Regions from separate parts of the Homo sapiens genome. Here region 1 is linked to region 2. The links come from fine-mapping of genetic effects on gene expression. Tissue or cell type: whole blood. Region 2 holds a variant in brackets; the other region holds the start of a gene. All regions are shown on one strand. Distances are from middle to middle.

The links. PIP is the estimated chance that this variant, and not a neighbour inherited with it, causes the effect.
Region 1: it holds the start of LZTS1, and the variant in region 2 is fine-mapped to the expression of LZTS1 in whole blood (INTERVAL, PIP above 0.99).

The regions. Positions count from the first base shown.
Region 1 is chr8:20,300,222-20,308,326 of GRCh38, forward strand. LZTS1 (leucine zipper tumor suppressor 1) reads right to left here and starts at 3,742. Exons shown (of 4, transcript NM_021020.5): 1 at 3,519-3,742. RefSeq lists a silencer at 3,732-3,801.
Region 2 is chr8:20,252,060-20,260,164 of GRCh38, forward strand. It overlaps LZTS1 (leucine zipper tumor suppressor 1), which reads right to left. Exons shown (of 4, transcript NM_021020.5): 2 at 2,778-3,256; 3 at 723-1,526. The coding sequence starts at 3,122. Among named protein-coding and RNA genes, the nearest start is that of LZTS1-AS1, 20 kb to the right of the region's middle. RefSeq lists a silencer at 3,273-3,456. The variant C/G (reference allele first, on the strand shown) is at 4,949.

The DNA of each region.
Region 1 (8,105 bases), 48 kb after region 2:
GAACAGTGCTCCCTGCCAAAGGTCTCTGAGAGCTCTCATCTTTCCCCTTACCTTATTAAACAAGCATTTACTAAGGGCATACTCATAGTATCTACTGAAAGCCAACACTGTATTTTTTTTTTCTTTTTTGAGACGGAGTCTCTCTCTGTTGCCCAGACTGGAGTGCAGTGATGTGATCTCGGCTCACTGCAAGCTCCCCCTCCCGGGTTCACGCCATTCTCCTGCCTCAGCCTCCCAAGTAGCTGGGACTACAGGTGCCCGCCACGACGCCCGGCTAATTTTTTGTATTTTTAGTAGAGACGGTGTTTCACCGTGTTAGCCAGGATGGTCTCGATCTCCTGACCTCGTGATCCACCTGCCTCAGCCTCCCAAAGTGCTGAGATTACAAGCGTGAGCCACAGCGCCCCGCCGCCAACACTGTATTTTGAGCTGGGAACTCATGATGCAATCTCTGCTTCTAGGAGTTTTGTAGACTCCTCAGGAGCCAGTGAGTAAATGCCATAATATACTGGTATGATGGTAGGGACTCTGAGGAAGGTACCTGACTCAGAATTGAGGAAAAAACAGAGGAAACTTTCTTGGAGGAGTTGATCCCTATGGTTAAAACCCACAGTGGGGCTGGGTGTGGTGGCTCCTGCCTGTAATCCCAACACTTTGGGAGGCTGAGGCCAGCAGATCACTTGAGGTCAGGAGTTCAAGACCAGCCTGACCAGCATGACAAAACCCCATCTCTACTAAAAATATAAAAGATTAGCCAGGCGTGGTGGCAGGCGCCTATAGTCCCAGCTACTTGTGAGGGTGAGGCAGGAGAACTGCTTGAACCCAGGAGGTGGAGGTTGCGGTGAGCCAAGATCGCACCACTGCACTCCAGCCTGGGCGACAGAGCAAGACTCCGTCTCAAAAAAAAAAAAAAAAAAAAAAAAAGTGGGAGCCAGTTAAGTGGAGAAGGTAGAGAGACCAGGCAGGAATATTCCATGCAGAAGAAACAGTGTTTCTATGTTCAAAGGTAGCAGAATAACATGGACAGAGCCAGGGTCCAGAACCTTACTAAGCTGATCTCAAATCCCTGCCCCTCGGTTTTGTAGCCTGGCTAAATTACTTAACTCTCCTCATCTAATAATTATACATACCCCGCAGGGCTGCAGTGAAAATTAAATGAGATAATGAATAAAAAGTTCCAGGCACACAGTGGATTTAGTGGCTGGCATTAAGTGTTACGGTATTATCCATTACACTGGTCTATAAGGTGCTTACCCATAGGTCTGTCATCATTACATTATTCATCTTCCTAGCCTCGCTGCACAGCTCAGAGCCTTGCATTTGGTAGGCGCCCAATGAATATTTATGAAATGAACGTTGAATAAGCGCAAAGGCATATAAATAAGTTTTCAGGATTAGAAAGCCATTTATATACGTCTGGAGCCCATGTATAGCTTTGCTATACACGCTGACCCACGGCTTCTCAAAACTGAAAGGCACATCTTTCCCTCACACACTCCCAAAGCATTGGCTTTCCCCAGGGCACCCCACGCAGCAGCACTCCTTCTATGACAGCACCCCTGCCCCACATCGACCCAGGCACACACAGCTGGGGGCACCTCCTGCAGATACACAAATGCACAAGCTGAACTGCTGAGACAGGTTTACCTCGTGAAGCACACAGCCGCTGCTATAAATGTTAACTAACAACCATCTTCAGCACATCAAATGTCCCGCCCTCCCTTTTGCTTGCATATAGACACCCACAGAGATGCCCGTTCTTTTTCTACTAGTTTTCTTCTCTTCTTAAGCAGAGTGAGCGCCCCACACTCACATCCACCCAGCTGAGACCTCTTACTAGGACTCCCAGTTGCTCCATCCTATTAGCTGTGGGACCTTAGGGAAAGCCTTTCCCTTCTGACGCCTCCGTTTCTTCACTGGCAGGCACAGAGAGCCCACCGCACCAACCTGGTAGTTATGTTGTGAGGATAAAGGAGATAACGTATGAGATAACGTCTATGATGAGCAGAAAGAGCCTCCAAAGAAAAGCGCTGGATAAATACAAGGTGTAACGCCACGCCTGATTAGCCTGCATGCTCTCTGCCCACAGACTTCTACCCACAGACTATGTTCCACTCCACTCTTAAACACAAACACCTTTCCCGTCTGTACATGCTATCTCTAATACCCATATGCGCACACTCTTCGGGCACCTCCATTCTCCCTCTGGATGCCTGCAGAAAATTGTTTTTGAACTTAGAGAAAGCTCAGGTTGCAAACACCCTCTTGCCGGTACCCGCAGACTCTTCTCAGGGTCTTGGTGCAGGAACTGCCAAGCAGATAGCTCATCTCTTTGTGGCTGGGCTCCTGGGCTCCCAGCATTCCTATTAGGCTGCACTTCCAGCAGAGTGTGGGATCCTTATTAGGAGCAGCGCCTGCCCGGCATGGTCCAGAACTCAGTGCCTCCTCAGTACTTTCCCAGCGCCCGGGACCAGAGAGTAGAGGGGCTGATGGCAGCGGGACGGTGTGGAGGGAATAAGTGAGACAGGAAACACTTTAGGAGGCCAGATCCCTAAGCACTTCTTATTCCTGGGAAATTGAAGACTGCGAAGCTAACAAGTCTGGAGCACTTTCCCAGGCCTGACATACTCGTGGGCGAGCACAAGGCTCATTTGCTCCACAGTTCAAACCTTTCCACTTGGAGCACGAAAAAGAGACATCACCTGGCCCTTGGTGTCTCGGGGATGCCTGTTGCTGCCAAGCTGCGACCTCTGAAGCCCCTCCAGCCAGAGCAAAGCCTGTGGCAGGGTGGAGGGGTGAGGTCTGGCTGCCTAGGGTGGCGGTGGAAGAAGTGAAGGTAGTGTGGGGCTGTCTGTGTGTGCATGGTGCTTTGACTAAATTCCTGAATTGCACATCCAGGACCGACCCCAGGAAGCTGCAGCCCCAGGGAGCCACTTAGACACTTCGATTTACCACCTTCCTCTCTAACCACCTCCGCCCGTGTGACTTATTCCTTGAGGGAAACCTTTCAAATCTCTGGCTGCAACGCACCGGTGTCCTCCCCACCGGTGTGGACACAGCTCATCTGCAAAGTTCCAGGCGGCGAAGTTCAGCGGCCCGGACCGACCGCCGGACCCTCTTCCTGCGGCCCCTGCTCCTGCGGCCTCGCGTCCCCACCTCCCACTTCTTCACCTCCGACACCAGTGTCACCTAACACTGACGTCCCCGCCAGGATCAGCATCGGTGCTGGGAATAGACGAACCCCGTCTGCAGGAGACACGAAGACAAAGACAGGAGGACAGACGCACAGTCACCTCCTCTGGGCCGGGCCGGAGAAGCGGCGCCCACCCTGCAGAGGGGAGACCCTGACAGCTCCACGCGGAGACAAAGACACCTCGACAGCCACGGACACAGACAGACAAAGACCGACGGACGCGCGGACGCACGGACGGTCCGGCCCGGCGAGGGGAAAGCGGTTTCCCGCAGCCAGGGCAGCAGACCCTCCAGGGGCGAGGAGATCCCCGGCCACCGCACCTTACCTGCCCCCTGCGCCTCGGGCGCACTTGAGACTTTTTTTTTTTCCCAGTGTTTCCCGGTGTGTTCCCGTCTCTCTTTTTCCAGAGCTGCTGAGCGGGCCGGGCCGGTCCCACTGCGCGGGATGCAGCTCCCGGCTCCCACTCACTGGCCGAGGCGGGCAGAGAAACTTTCGGCCTCCCCGCCCGGCCGCTGCCAACCCGCCAGCTCCAGGCGCGCCGGCCTCTGCGCGGGTCCCGGAGCCGGGGCGGGGCGGGGCGGGGCGGGGCGGGGCGGGGCCGGCCCGGGGCGGGGCCAGAGCCGGCGCCGCTGATTGGCAGCGAGCTGCCGGCAGCCTGGTCTGTGCCGCTCGGCGGCCTTTGTTCCGGGCTGACAGCTGGGGCTGCTCGCGACCTCGCGGCTCCTTCGCGCCCGCGGCCTGCGCGGGGTCCCGGGTCCCGTCTCTCTGCTCTCACTTCCATCAGCCCCATTGGGCGACCCTGCCCCCTCAGTCTTCCTTTCTTGCCTGGCCCCCTTTCTCCGATTGTTCCTGTCTTGCTCTTGTCGCATCCTTTTTTCCCTTTCATTACCTGAAATTCTTACTCCAGTTTTGTTTAAAATCCATTCCTTCTCCCGTTCTGTGTATGTTCCCCTTTCTTCATTACCCCTTCCTCTTAATCGCCAGTTTATTTTTCTTAATACCGTCTCTCCCGCTCCCGACTCGCACTAAAGGGCGTGTGTTTTGTTCAAGGACTGGACTAGCACCCAAGTGAGGGGCATTGCGAACCACACCAGGATTACAGGCTAGAGTCCAGAGCACCGGGACTCCCACTCCCAAAACATGTCAAAAGCAAACTTTTCCAGCTCTGAGGGAGCTGAGTTTCAGGTGACAGCAGAGGCCTGTTTCAAGTTTATAGCTATTAGTCTCACCCAGTCCCCTTATAATACTATCATTTTCTCAACCACCCTCACTTTTAACTTCTAGCAACTGAGCCAGGAGAGGATTCAAGCTTACAAGGTTTTGTAGGACAAAGGGTCAGTTAACCGGAGTGCTAGGTGCAGCATGAGGCTTGGGGGCTTGAGGGTGCACTGAGGCTAATCCTCTAAAACCAGGCTTGGCGGGAAGATGGCAGCTCTGCCCAAGGAGTGTTAGCCTCATCTTGAAAGAAGCCTGTGTGTGTGTGTGTGTGTGTGTGTGTGTGTGTGTGTGTGTGTTGGGGGGTGGGGGATAGATGTAATGGATTAGGATTGACATAGCCGATCTGATTATAAATAGCATGGGGGCCGGACGCGGTGGCTCATGCCTGTAATCTCAGCACTTTGGGAGGCCGAGGTTGGTGGATCACTTGAGGTCAGGAGTTGAAGACCAGCCTGGCCAACATGGTGAAACCCCGTCTCTACTAAAAAAAAAAAAAAAAAAAAATACAAAAATTAGCTGGGTGTGGTGGCAGGAGCCTGTAATCCCAGCTACTTGGGAGGCTGAGGCTTGGGAATTGCTTGAGCCTGGAAGGCAGAGGTTGCAGTGAGCCAAGATAGTGCCACTGCACTCCAGCCTGGGTGACAGAGTGACACCGTGTCTCAAAATAAATAAATAAATAAATAAATACAAAAAAATTAAATAGAATTGTGGTGGCAGGGGGGACAGCTCAAAGGAAAACAAGCCATATGGTTTCTGCCACACCCCTGCTCAAAACCCTGTAGGGGAATCTCACTGCCTTCGGTTGTTGACCCTGAAGACTCTGACCTTCGAATCTAGGCTTCCTGAAAGATGGCACCGCGAGGGTTTAAGAACACAGACAGGCTTCGCTGCTTGTTATTTGAGCCATTACCTTCCCCTCCCTCTTTCTCAGTTTTTCTTTTTCTTTCTTTCTTTTTTTATTTGTGAAATGAGGTAACAAGTCCCAGTGTAAATTCCCTGAAGGCAGGAACTTGTTCTCTTTTATTGGTGGCTGAGGGACTTGGTCTGTTTTATTCATAGATGTATCCCCGACACCTAGAACTTGCCAGGCAACATAGTAGGCACTCAATATGTATTTGTTAAATGAATGAATTTCTCATGTATAGGTTTGTTCTGATGATTAAATGAAACCCACTGCCTTGCGGTAAGTACATACACGTGGCAGTAATTACAAGCAATACGACAATTTCTAAGTGTCAACCCCAAAGGCTACTCAGCCTTTTCCTGAACATCACCTCCTTTTCCCCACCTTTGTATAAACCTGCCCCTCAGTCTGAAAAGCTTTTCTCCTGCTCTTCTAACTCTACCTCTCAAAATCTGAGACAAAATATGGAACCCTTACTCACACCTTCTCTTATCGTCCAGGGCAAAATAATGTCTTCTTTTTCTAAAGCGCCATGCTTCTTTGTGTTGCATTTATTGACAGAGAACATGTATTCTTGCTTGCTGGTGAGAGTATCTCAAGAATTTTAGCTGAATGAGTTAATATCGATCAAACATTCCAGCGCTTTAAGGAAAGAGCAGACTCCTGGAAGGTAGATTAAGGTATGAGGTGGGCTCCAGACTTCAAACTCATTTTCACATCGTCGGAGGTGAGATTCCATGGAAGAGACAAAGGACTCTGGAAGCCCACTTTTTGTTCTGGCCCTACTGCTGACTATATGCTCTTGGACAAGCCATGTCCCTAATGAGGCCTCAGTTTCCTCATCTGGAAAGTGGATGGTTTGGAGTCCCTGATGAGACCTCAGTTTCCTATCTGGAAAGTGGATGGTTTGGAGTCCCTGATGAGGCCTCAGTTTCCTCATCTGGAAAGTGGATGGTTTGGATGAGAAGATACTCCTTAAGGACCCTCCTTCAGCACTGACACCTTTGTCAGTGACATTCTAGGTGAAAGCTGGGTATGATGTGCAGCCTTCCTGGAATGACTGAGTCAGGCAAAGGGTATGAGCAGTGTGTTGGTTTGTGTATGAGCGGTGGAAATGGGATACCCTATGGAACAACAGAAACACCCTGTGGAAGGGATACTTTAGAGACAGAATGCATAGAGAGTGGGGCTGGAAATGAGAAGGCAGAGTGGAGAAGGAGACCAGTGATGGACAGCACAGCATGTGTGTATGTATTATGGTTCCGTATGTGTGCATGAAAGCCTCAGGAATGTGGTCTCCAGCAGCACAAAGCCATAATTAGCTCCCTGATTCAGCAGTTGGGTATGGTAATGCAATGGCTGGGTGTGTCTACCCCCAACACCACCGGTAGGTTCTCAGTGTGGCTCCTTTTCTTCCTTGTCTAGTGAAGGGGCGCTGCCCTTCCTTAGTGTCTGGGTTCCCGAGAGGTGTCTTATGTGAAACTCTGCATCCCTCAGGCTCTCCCTTGCCTGAGTCGAGTCTAGAAAGCTGGGTCACAAAACATTTCTTGTAAAAATCTCCTACCCTCCTCCTGTATTCATCACCTGAGATACAGAGCATCATGCTTCATCTCTAGGACCTAAGATTGGCCACACTGGACCAGACCCATAGACCAGTTAAGCCAGCAGCTTGTTTGGATTACAGACAACTCTGCCTTCCTCAAGGTACTGTCACCTATCACAATTTAATTAATTCCCTGGCTTCTTGTTTGTCTGTTCATCTCTTCTGCAAGTTTCTTGTTCAAAGATCATGTCTGTCTTAGTCAACATTGAATCCACAGAACTCAGCACATTATTGGTACAAAGCAAGCGCTCAAAAAATACTAGAATGAGTGCTATGAGGGGAGGGAGGCGAGATGATGTTTCAGAGAGATAAATTGACTCAAATTCAGAAAATCCACGTGTATTCCTACTTCTTCCAATCTGCAGTCTTCTCACAACCCTTTGGAGGTTTAGTTTGCTATCAGTGAAAGAAGCCTAATAACATTTTCCCTATCTATCTTTTGGCAACAATACAAAATGAAAAGAATTAATAAAGTCAAAGGTGTTATGAAAAATACAAAATATCAAATAATTTTTTAATATTATTTCAAGTCTCAAAATCCAGGGCCTTGTGTTAAGAGAAAAGAAATGCTGACTATATTTAAGTGAGGTTGGATAATCTCCAAAAGCCGGTGAAAAAATATGAGCCTAGACAACTGAGCAAAGCTTTAAGGAATCAACTGAGGCCACTCCTGATTTCCCAGTGACCCCAGTAAAGGTCCAGGGAGAGCAGTTTTTCTGCAGTCAGAGCCAATGGTCCCATGACCTTAGAAGATGTCTTACCATCCCTGTCTTTTTCCAGGGTAGAAAACAGTTCCCGTGGAGTTGCTTTGAATGTGCAACTTTTATAACAAGAATTTTCATTCCTTACCTGTAGGTCTCTGACCACCTTGAATCTCTTATCTCTGGGCTTCAGGAGACTTGTCTCTGAATTGGAAGGACCATCTCTTTTTTCTTTAAATTTATTTATTTATTTTTTATTTTTTTTGAGACGGAGTCTCGCTCTGTCGCCCAGACTGGAGTGCAGTGGTGCCATCTCGGCTCACTGCAAGCTCCGCCTCCCGGGTTCATGCCATTCTCCTGCCTCAGCCTCCCGAGTAGCTGGGACTACAGGCGCCCACCACCACGCCCGGCTAATTTTTTGTATTTTTAGTAGAGACGGGGTTTCACTGTGTTAGTCAGGATGGTCTCGATCTCCTGACCTTGTGA
Region 2 (8,105 bases):
GGCTTGAACTCCATGAGTCATCCAGACCACCAGGCTGGTGAGAAAAGCTGCTTTCCCACTAATAGATGCAGAGGTTATGGGGTTCTCCAGCACGGTCAGGTACAGATGCCTCATTTCCACGTGTGACCGGGTGAGTGAGTGTGTGTGAGTGTGTAAGTGTGTGAGTGGGGGACTCTTTACTTCCTCTCCTAGGTTTCCATCTCAGCTCACCAAATAGAAGTTCCACTTACACTTCAGCAAGGAGTGGCCACTTCCATCACTGAAACCTGCCACCAATAGGGTCCCTCTTACTAGTGGGTGCAGTCCCTCCCTCCAAAGCAACAAATGCATTCTGTGCTCTCTTGGGCCCCTGGCCCCGCCTGAACTCAGGCACGGCTTGTTCTTCTTCTGAGCCTCCTGGGAGCTGATGGAAGGGAGGTCAGCCCACAGCCTGGCTGGGCCTTGGTCATCTGGCTTCCGGCTTCATGATTTAATGGCTCACTTGGGAAACTGAAATCTAGGAGCCATGAGGGTGATGGTGGGGACAGGAGGAAGCTCAGATGTAAGTCGATCCCCCAACATGGTTTGCAGGGAGCCCCTTCTTTGGGTGATAAAGCCAGCACATTAGCCCCGCTTGCCTGCGCGGTCTGTGTTTGCACGCTATTGGCCGGCACCAGAAGGAGAGGGGGGTACTGGCGCCAAACCGCTGACCACCCAAACCCATGAGCCCTGTGTGGCCTCACCTCCCACTGGGTCTCCTCCAGCGCGGGGCCGAAGCTGGTCTTCTCCCTCTCGTAGGACCTGAGCTTGGTCTCCAGCAGGTCCTGCTCCTTCATGAGGCTCTCGAGCTCCTGCCGGAGCTGCCGCTTCTCCTGCTGAAGCTGCAGTACCTGCAGGTGCAGGACCTGCTGCGCGCGCTGGCTCTTCTGCGAGGCCTGCTTGAGCTTGTTGCCGCCTTTGGGCTCCGGGCCCTCCAGCTCGTCCCTGCAGCGCCGCGGCCGCTCCTCGTAGGCCAGGCTGGAGGCAAGCTCCTTCTCCTCAAAGCTGCGCTGCAGCTTCTGGAGGGCGCCCTCCCTCTCCAACAGCTTCTGCTCCAGCTCCTGGATGCTGCACTCGTCCGTGGAGATGGGGGAGCGGACACACGAGGGGCCCTTGTCTGCCTTGTTCGAGTGGCCCAGCTTGCTACCTCCGTCGGAGAAGGACAGAGCCTTCAGGCTCATCATGTTGCTGTCCTGGAGGACGATGCCCTGGGTGATGTTGTGGGCGGAGCCCCCAAAACGGCTTGTGGGTCCCACGGGTGTGACCAGCGGGTCCAGCTGGTAGCTGCTGCTGGTGCTGTGTGTGGGCAGGCTGGACATGGAGTTCCGGCCGGAGTCTGACAGCGCCCCAGAGCACAGGCCAGGCTTCAGCTCCTGCTCCTTGGGCTTGTCTGGAGGGGCGGGGTGCAGCTGGTGGCTGGCACTCTCCGGGGAGGAGTGCAGGATGGCTCCTGACCGTGGCAGCACAGGCTTGAAGGCTGTGGGCCTCACTGCACCCTTCTCGGAGCCCTGTAGAGGAAAAGGACCGCGGTGACTCATGCCTCCCCTGCGCGCGCATTGCACCCTCCCTCCCCAGGCACGCGTGCCGACCTTGAGCCAGTCTGGGCTCTCTGAGCGCACGCAGCACCCCTCTTGGTCAATTGTCTCAGCAGACCTTGCCTGTTGCTTTGAAGCAGCTGAATGTCATCTCTCTTAGGAAGGAAAAACCCTAATGGCGACTTGGGCACTTTGTTCTATGAAATAGCAACCTGCCACCAGCTTGCCCCAGCCCTCCCGAGGTGATAAATACCATCTTGAGGCTCCTGCTCTAGGTCTCTGTGTGGGGCAAGTTAGGGCATCAGGCTGGCCGAGCTTGCTGTCCCTCTTTAGGTCCATCCCTTCTTCCTGTTCACTGCCTCTTCCATTAAGCCTGGAGCAAGGACACGGACCTGGCCTCCTTACAGGGTTGGGAGGCTCACTCCAAATCACGATCCTTTTTTAAAACTGTAATTTTCCCTGGTAGAGTGCTTCACAGTTTACAAGCCCCTTAATTTGAAAAGCTGAATGCTCTATGCAAACATAAGAGGCTCTTTCCTAGTAAATCAAAGCCGGGGATTCATTTCCCCAGGGCAAGGGGCAGAGGACTGAATAGGAAAATTGATTTCAGTGTCCACTCGTGGGACGCACGAGGGCTTGAGCTGGTGTGAGGGCTGGATTTCTCAGTGCCTGGGCCTCCTTTGCCCTAATCTCTGGTAAATGGATGACAAAACTCCAGCCTGTATTCAAAGATGCCCCCAGGCGCAGCTTGAACAAGGAGCTAATGCACACCAGGGCAGCAAATGAGAAGACCGCACCCACCCCCACGAGTCTCCCGGGGAGAGAAGCGGTTAACTCCCGGCCTGCATCCTCTTCATCTGTGCTTCCAGATGAGAACAGGGCTCCCTCTCCTTCCCGAGGCTTGGCAAACGCCTGGATCCTACGTTGACAATCCAGCTACATTTCAGTGGGACTCCAGAAAGCTCACATATCCCCTGTGCTCTTTGCTTATGGCCTGACCCAAGACTTCTGCTTCAGGGGGACTGAGCGATGCTCTAATTCCTTTGTGAAACGTTTGATCTCTGCGGTGTGGCCACAGGCTTCCGCCGGCACCCCTGCCGCTCTGGTTTTGAGGAGTCTGAATGCTCAGGTCACCACTCCCCCTGAACCCCCAGGCTCTCCACCCCCATTTTGCTTTCTCCTGCGTTTCCAACCCACTTACCCTTGCCAGCGACCCCCGCTTACCATTTCTAGCTGATTGGAGAAGGGCATGAGCTTGGGGGGTGTGGACGGGTCAAAGTCCACCCCAGCCTGGCCCCCTAAATCCCCGCTGGACAGTGCCGTGTAATCTGGGTGATGGGAGCCCCGGGCTTTCTGGCTGACCTTGATGTAGAAGAAGTCTTCGCTCTTGCCCATTTTGGAGCTGGACTTGCCGTGACCGGAGTCCTGGGAGAAGCCAAACCTCAGCAGCCCGTCGGAATACCGGTTGAGCTTCTTGAGGTGGGAGGACTTGCGCAGCTTGTACTGCGAAGCCCGGCAGTGCTTGCTGTGGAAGCTGTGGCCGGAGATGAGGCTACTGACGCTGCCCATGGTGACTCGGGGCTGAGGATGGGGCAGGGCCGGGCAGGGTCTTGGAAAGGCTGTGGCAGCAAGGGGCAGTCGTGGCTCCGTGAGGGGACTGAGGTCATAGCAAAGCCCTCACAGAGCCTGCGAGAGCCGTAGACCTGGAAGAAGACACAAGACAGAAGTCAGCGTGGGTGGGAGTGGTCACAGCACAGTGCTGATTCCGACTTCCAGATCTGGGCAGTAGAGAAACACATGTCAGAGCCCAGCACTGTCTCCACCACCGGGTGCTCCGTTCCTTCTTCCTTTGTCTGATAATTCAACAAACATTCACTGGGAGCCCACTTCATGCAAGCCTCTACTCTAAACACTCGGGACCCAGCAAGTGACTAAAACAGTCACAGTCCCTGCATTCCTGGAACTTAGGGTTACAGTGGTGTGGAGAGGCCAGAAGCAAACCAATGTATACTATAGCAAGTGGTACCAGTGCTGCGGGTACCAGTGCTGCGGGTACCAGTGCTGCGGGGGAAACTGGAGCAGAGAGGACAGAACAGAATTCTGGGAGGTGGCTGTTTTATGCAGGAAGGTCTTCTTTTGTTAGGGTAGCATTTTAAAAGGCTTCAAGAAAATGAGGGGGCAGCCAGGCATGATGGTTCACACCTGTAATCCCAGCACTCTGGGAGGCTGAGGTGGGCAGATTGCTTGAGTCCAGGAGTTCGAGACCAGCCTGTGCAACTTAGAGAAACCCCATTTCTACTAAAAATACAAAAATTAGCCGGGCGTAGTGGTGCACACCTGTAATCCCAGCTACTTGGGAGGGTGAGGTGGGAGAATCGTCTGAGCCCCGGGGATCAAGGCTGCAGTGAGCCACAATTGTGCCACTGCACTCCAGCCTGGGCCTGACTCAAAAAAAAAAAAAAAAAAAAAAAAGAAGAAGAAGAAAAGAAAATGAGGTGCAAGTCATATGAAAATCTAGGGGGAGAGGGGTACCAGAAGAAACCCCAAGTATAAAAGCCTGAGTCCCTGAGGCAGAGGGGGCTTGGCTGTGTGAGACCCACATGGGAAGCAGCCTGGCTGGAGAACAATTAGCAAGGCTGGGAAGGAGAAACAGAAACCAGGAGCCAGCAGACATCAGAGAACAAGGAGGCTGTGCAGCTCAAAGAGCTCTGGCTTTGCTTGGGTTGAGACAAGGAGCCCCTGGATGGCTTTAAGCAGCTGACACCTTGATCTGCCTTAGGTTGGGGAAGGTCACTCTGGCTTCCGGGTGGGGAAGAAGCTTATTGAGGAGACGGGGGATAGAAGTGGTGGCCAATTACAGGCTAATAGTCTAGGGTGGTAGTTGTGGATTTAGATGTGGTGGTGGCTCACGTCTGTAATCCCAGCATTTTGGGAGGCCAAGGCAGGAGGATCACTTGAGGCCAGGAGTTCAAGACCAGCCTGGGCAACACAGTGAGACCCTGTCTCTAAAAAACAGTTTTCAATGTAATTTTGAGGTTGAGCTGACAGGACTTGCTAAAGGATCAGATGTAGGGAGTGAGCGAAAGAGAGGAGTCAGGGACAATGCCAAAGAGAGGAGTTTGGTTGAAGACATTCAGTTTGCAAAGCCTATTTGGCATCCAGGGAGTGATGGAGAGTAGGCAGGAGGGTGAGTGGGCAGCTGCTGGGAGCTGCAGATGCACTTGTCAGAGCTGGGAGTGTGGAAGTGGCTATGAGACTAGATGGGGTCACCAAAGAGCGGATGCAGAAAGACAAGAGAGGCCTGAGGATGGTTAACATGGAGCACTCGGCATCTGGAGGTCAGGCAGGTTAGGAGAAGTGAAAAAGAGCAGCAGAGAAGGTTTTCAGGGTGATGT[C/G]GATATAGAAGACCTAAGAAAGCCAAGTCAAGAAATTGTTTCCTAAAAATGGTGTCAAATGGCCAGGCGCAATGGCTCAAGCCTGTAATCCCAGCACTTTGGGAGGCCAAGGTGGGCAGATCACTTGAGGTCAAGGGTTTGAAACCAGCCTGGCTAACATGGTGGAACCCCGTCTCTACTAAAAATATAAAAAATTAGCCAGGCAAATTGGGCATGGTGGCACGCACCTGTAGTCCCAGCTACTGAGGAAGCTGAGGCATGAGAATAGCTTGAACCCAGGAGGCGGAGGTTGCAGTGAGCTGAGATCACGCCACTGCACTCCAGCCTGGGCAACAGACTGAGTTCCTGTCTCAAAAAAAAAAGTTGTCAAGTGCTGCTGAAAGTAAGATAACAATTGAGAATTAGTCAATGCATTTGGCCATGTGGAGATCTTTGGTAACCTTGACAAGAGCAGTTTTGGAGGAATGGTGGAAGGAAGGCCTCATTGAGAAGATTCAAGAGAGAAAGAAGGAGAAAGTCATTACAGCCTTAATGTTGAGAAGTACCCAGCCGACTTGGTGTGCATTCTAGTTACATCACCTGCCAGCTATGACATGGAAGGTAAACTGTTTAATATCTTTAACCTTCAGTGTTACAAACTAATTCTAAGACACCCTTAAACTTTTTTTTTTTTTTTTTTTGAGATAGAGTCTCACTCTGTTGCCCAGGCTGGAGTGCAGTGGCATGATCTTGGCTCACTGCAACCTCCACCTCGCGGGTTCAAATGATTCTCCCACCTCAGTCTCCCACATAGCTGGGATTACAGGTGAGCACCACCATGACTGGCTGGCTAATCTTTGTATTTTTAGTAGAGATGGGGTTTTCCCATGTTGGCCAGGCTGGTCTCGAACTCCTGACCTCAGGTGATCCACCTGCCTAGGCCTCCCAAAGTGCCGGGATTATAGGCGTGAGCCACCGGACTGGGCACATTTTTTTTTTAAAGTAATAGGATAGCATCTAATAATCAATGCTTAAACAATAACAACCTTGTCAGTCACCAGACAGGAGAAATTGGGATGTCAGTGCCAGCACATGTGCAGATTCAGGCAAATCTCTAAGTTTAGATCACACAATTTTCAAAGCTAGGAAAGGTTGGTGATTGTCATGCACTGTGAAGTATTTCTTAGTCAAAAGACAGATATCCAATTAAGAAGGGGAAAGCCACAAGTTTAATAAAACAGGAGATGTGGAAGGAGCCTCTGTTCTTCGCTGAGCTCTAAATTATACCATCCATCCTAAAGGGGCTAAAGAAATCCCAGGTGGGACATGGAGAACTGCATGGGCACAGCTGAAAGGGAGCCAGAAACTTTCTGACTCTGTTTTTTAATTTTAATTTTATTATATATATATTTTTTACAATTAGCAGTTGTGCATGGAGACTCTGTGACTCTGAATATCTAGGCTTCGATTCAAACTTGCGTTATCATCCTGAAGAATAAAGAGGTTATGTTATGAATATGTTCTATATTTTGTTAGGAAAAGCATGACACAACAAAACTTCGTTGTGTAAGTTTAATATGTTTTGATGTGAAAAGCTTTTATTGAATTGATGGCTTTGTATACTCGAGGAAATACAGTGAAGCAGCCTACCTCATAGGATCGTTATGAGAAATTTAAGAAATACCACCATAAGATAACAGCTCTGGAACATTTACTCAATACTTAGTACATAGTGGGCACTCAATAAATGCTAGGCAGTGTTATCGGTATCTGTTACTTATATTGTGACCATTGTCCTTGCCAACATCCATCATCCCTATGGATCTGGGGAGCCTCAATGTCCAAACTCACTTTCCAGAGCTAATCCTTTCCTTCTAAATGCAACCTTTCTGCCTCCCATTCCTGCGAGGTGTGACTTAGGAGCACAGGGTGGCTCTGCTGATATAAACTTGACACTGACAAAATGTGTTTTCATCCCCCTAGGTCATCCATCCCTAGCTTAGCTAACACCTCTAGTTCCTATGGGGCGAAAATACTACTCTGGTCCACATGCAGGGGTGTCATTTTGGGCCAAAAGACCCTCCCGTGCTCTGCGCAATATGCTCAGCTCCTCCTTTTTTTGCCATGCAATACACATTGCCGAGCAGCTGTACCTGCAGGGCTGTACAGACCAGACCATCAGCTGTGGCATCGGCAGGAGTTTGATTTGAAAATCAATCTCTCTGAGGTTTCTTCATTTACAAACTGAAAATATTAATATTAAATAGGAACATTAGGGAGCCGAAACAAACAGAAGGAAAATACAAGGCCTGGCATGTAGTAGGCGATCTACAGATGTGTGCACGATATGTGTTGCCTTCAAGCCTATGACACCGCTGGAGGCTATTGACAGTATCAGTGCATCGGTGCTAAATGAATCTGTTTATGGTTCTCATCCATCTCCTCTCACCTCCATCTCCTCTCACCTGGGCCTTGAAGGAGCCTCCCAATGTCTTTCCCCAGTCTGTTCATCAGACACATCTGAAGCGTCCAGGTCATAGCACTTCCTAATGGGAACCCTTCCAGTCTTCCCACTGTGTTAGAGTACAATGCGGACTCCTCACCTTGTCCCGCCATGTCCCAGGGACAGACACACTCATCTCTTTCCTGGTGGGTGAACATACGAAGTCTTGACCCATCCAGGAGACTCTGCACTTGCTGCTGCTTCCCCTGCCTGGAATTCTCCTCCTTGGGCTCTTCACATACATCAGCCTTTCTCATTTTCTAGTTCTCAACTTGAGTCTCATGTCTGCAAGGTGGCTTTCTCCAGTTAATCTTGAAACCCTTGCATCCCTCCCCGATTACTTTCTACCAACCTGTTTATTCCCTGTGTAAGGCTTGCTCTCACCTGTACTAATCTTATTATTTTTTATTTATTTTTAAATTTTAGAAACAGAGTCTCATTCTGTCATCCAAGCTGGACTGCAGTAGGTAACAGTGATCACAGCTCACTGCAGCCTCCAGCTGCTGGGCTCAAGTGATCTTCCCACCTTAGCCCCAGAGTAGATGGGATGACGGCACATACCATTACTCCTGGCTAATTAAATAATTCTTTTGTAGAGACAGGGGTCTCGCTGTGTTGCCCATGCTGGTCTTAAACTCCTGACCTCAAGCTATCCTCCCACCTTGGCCTCCCAAA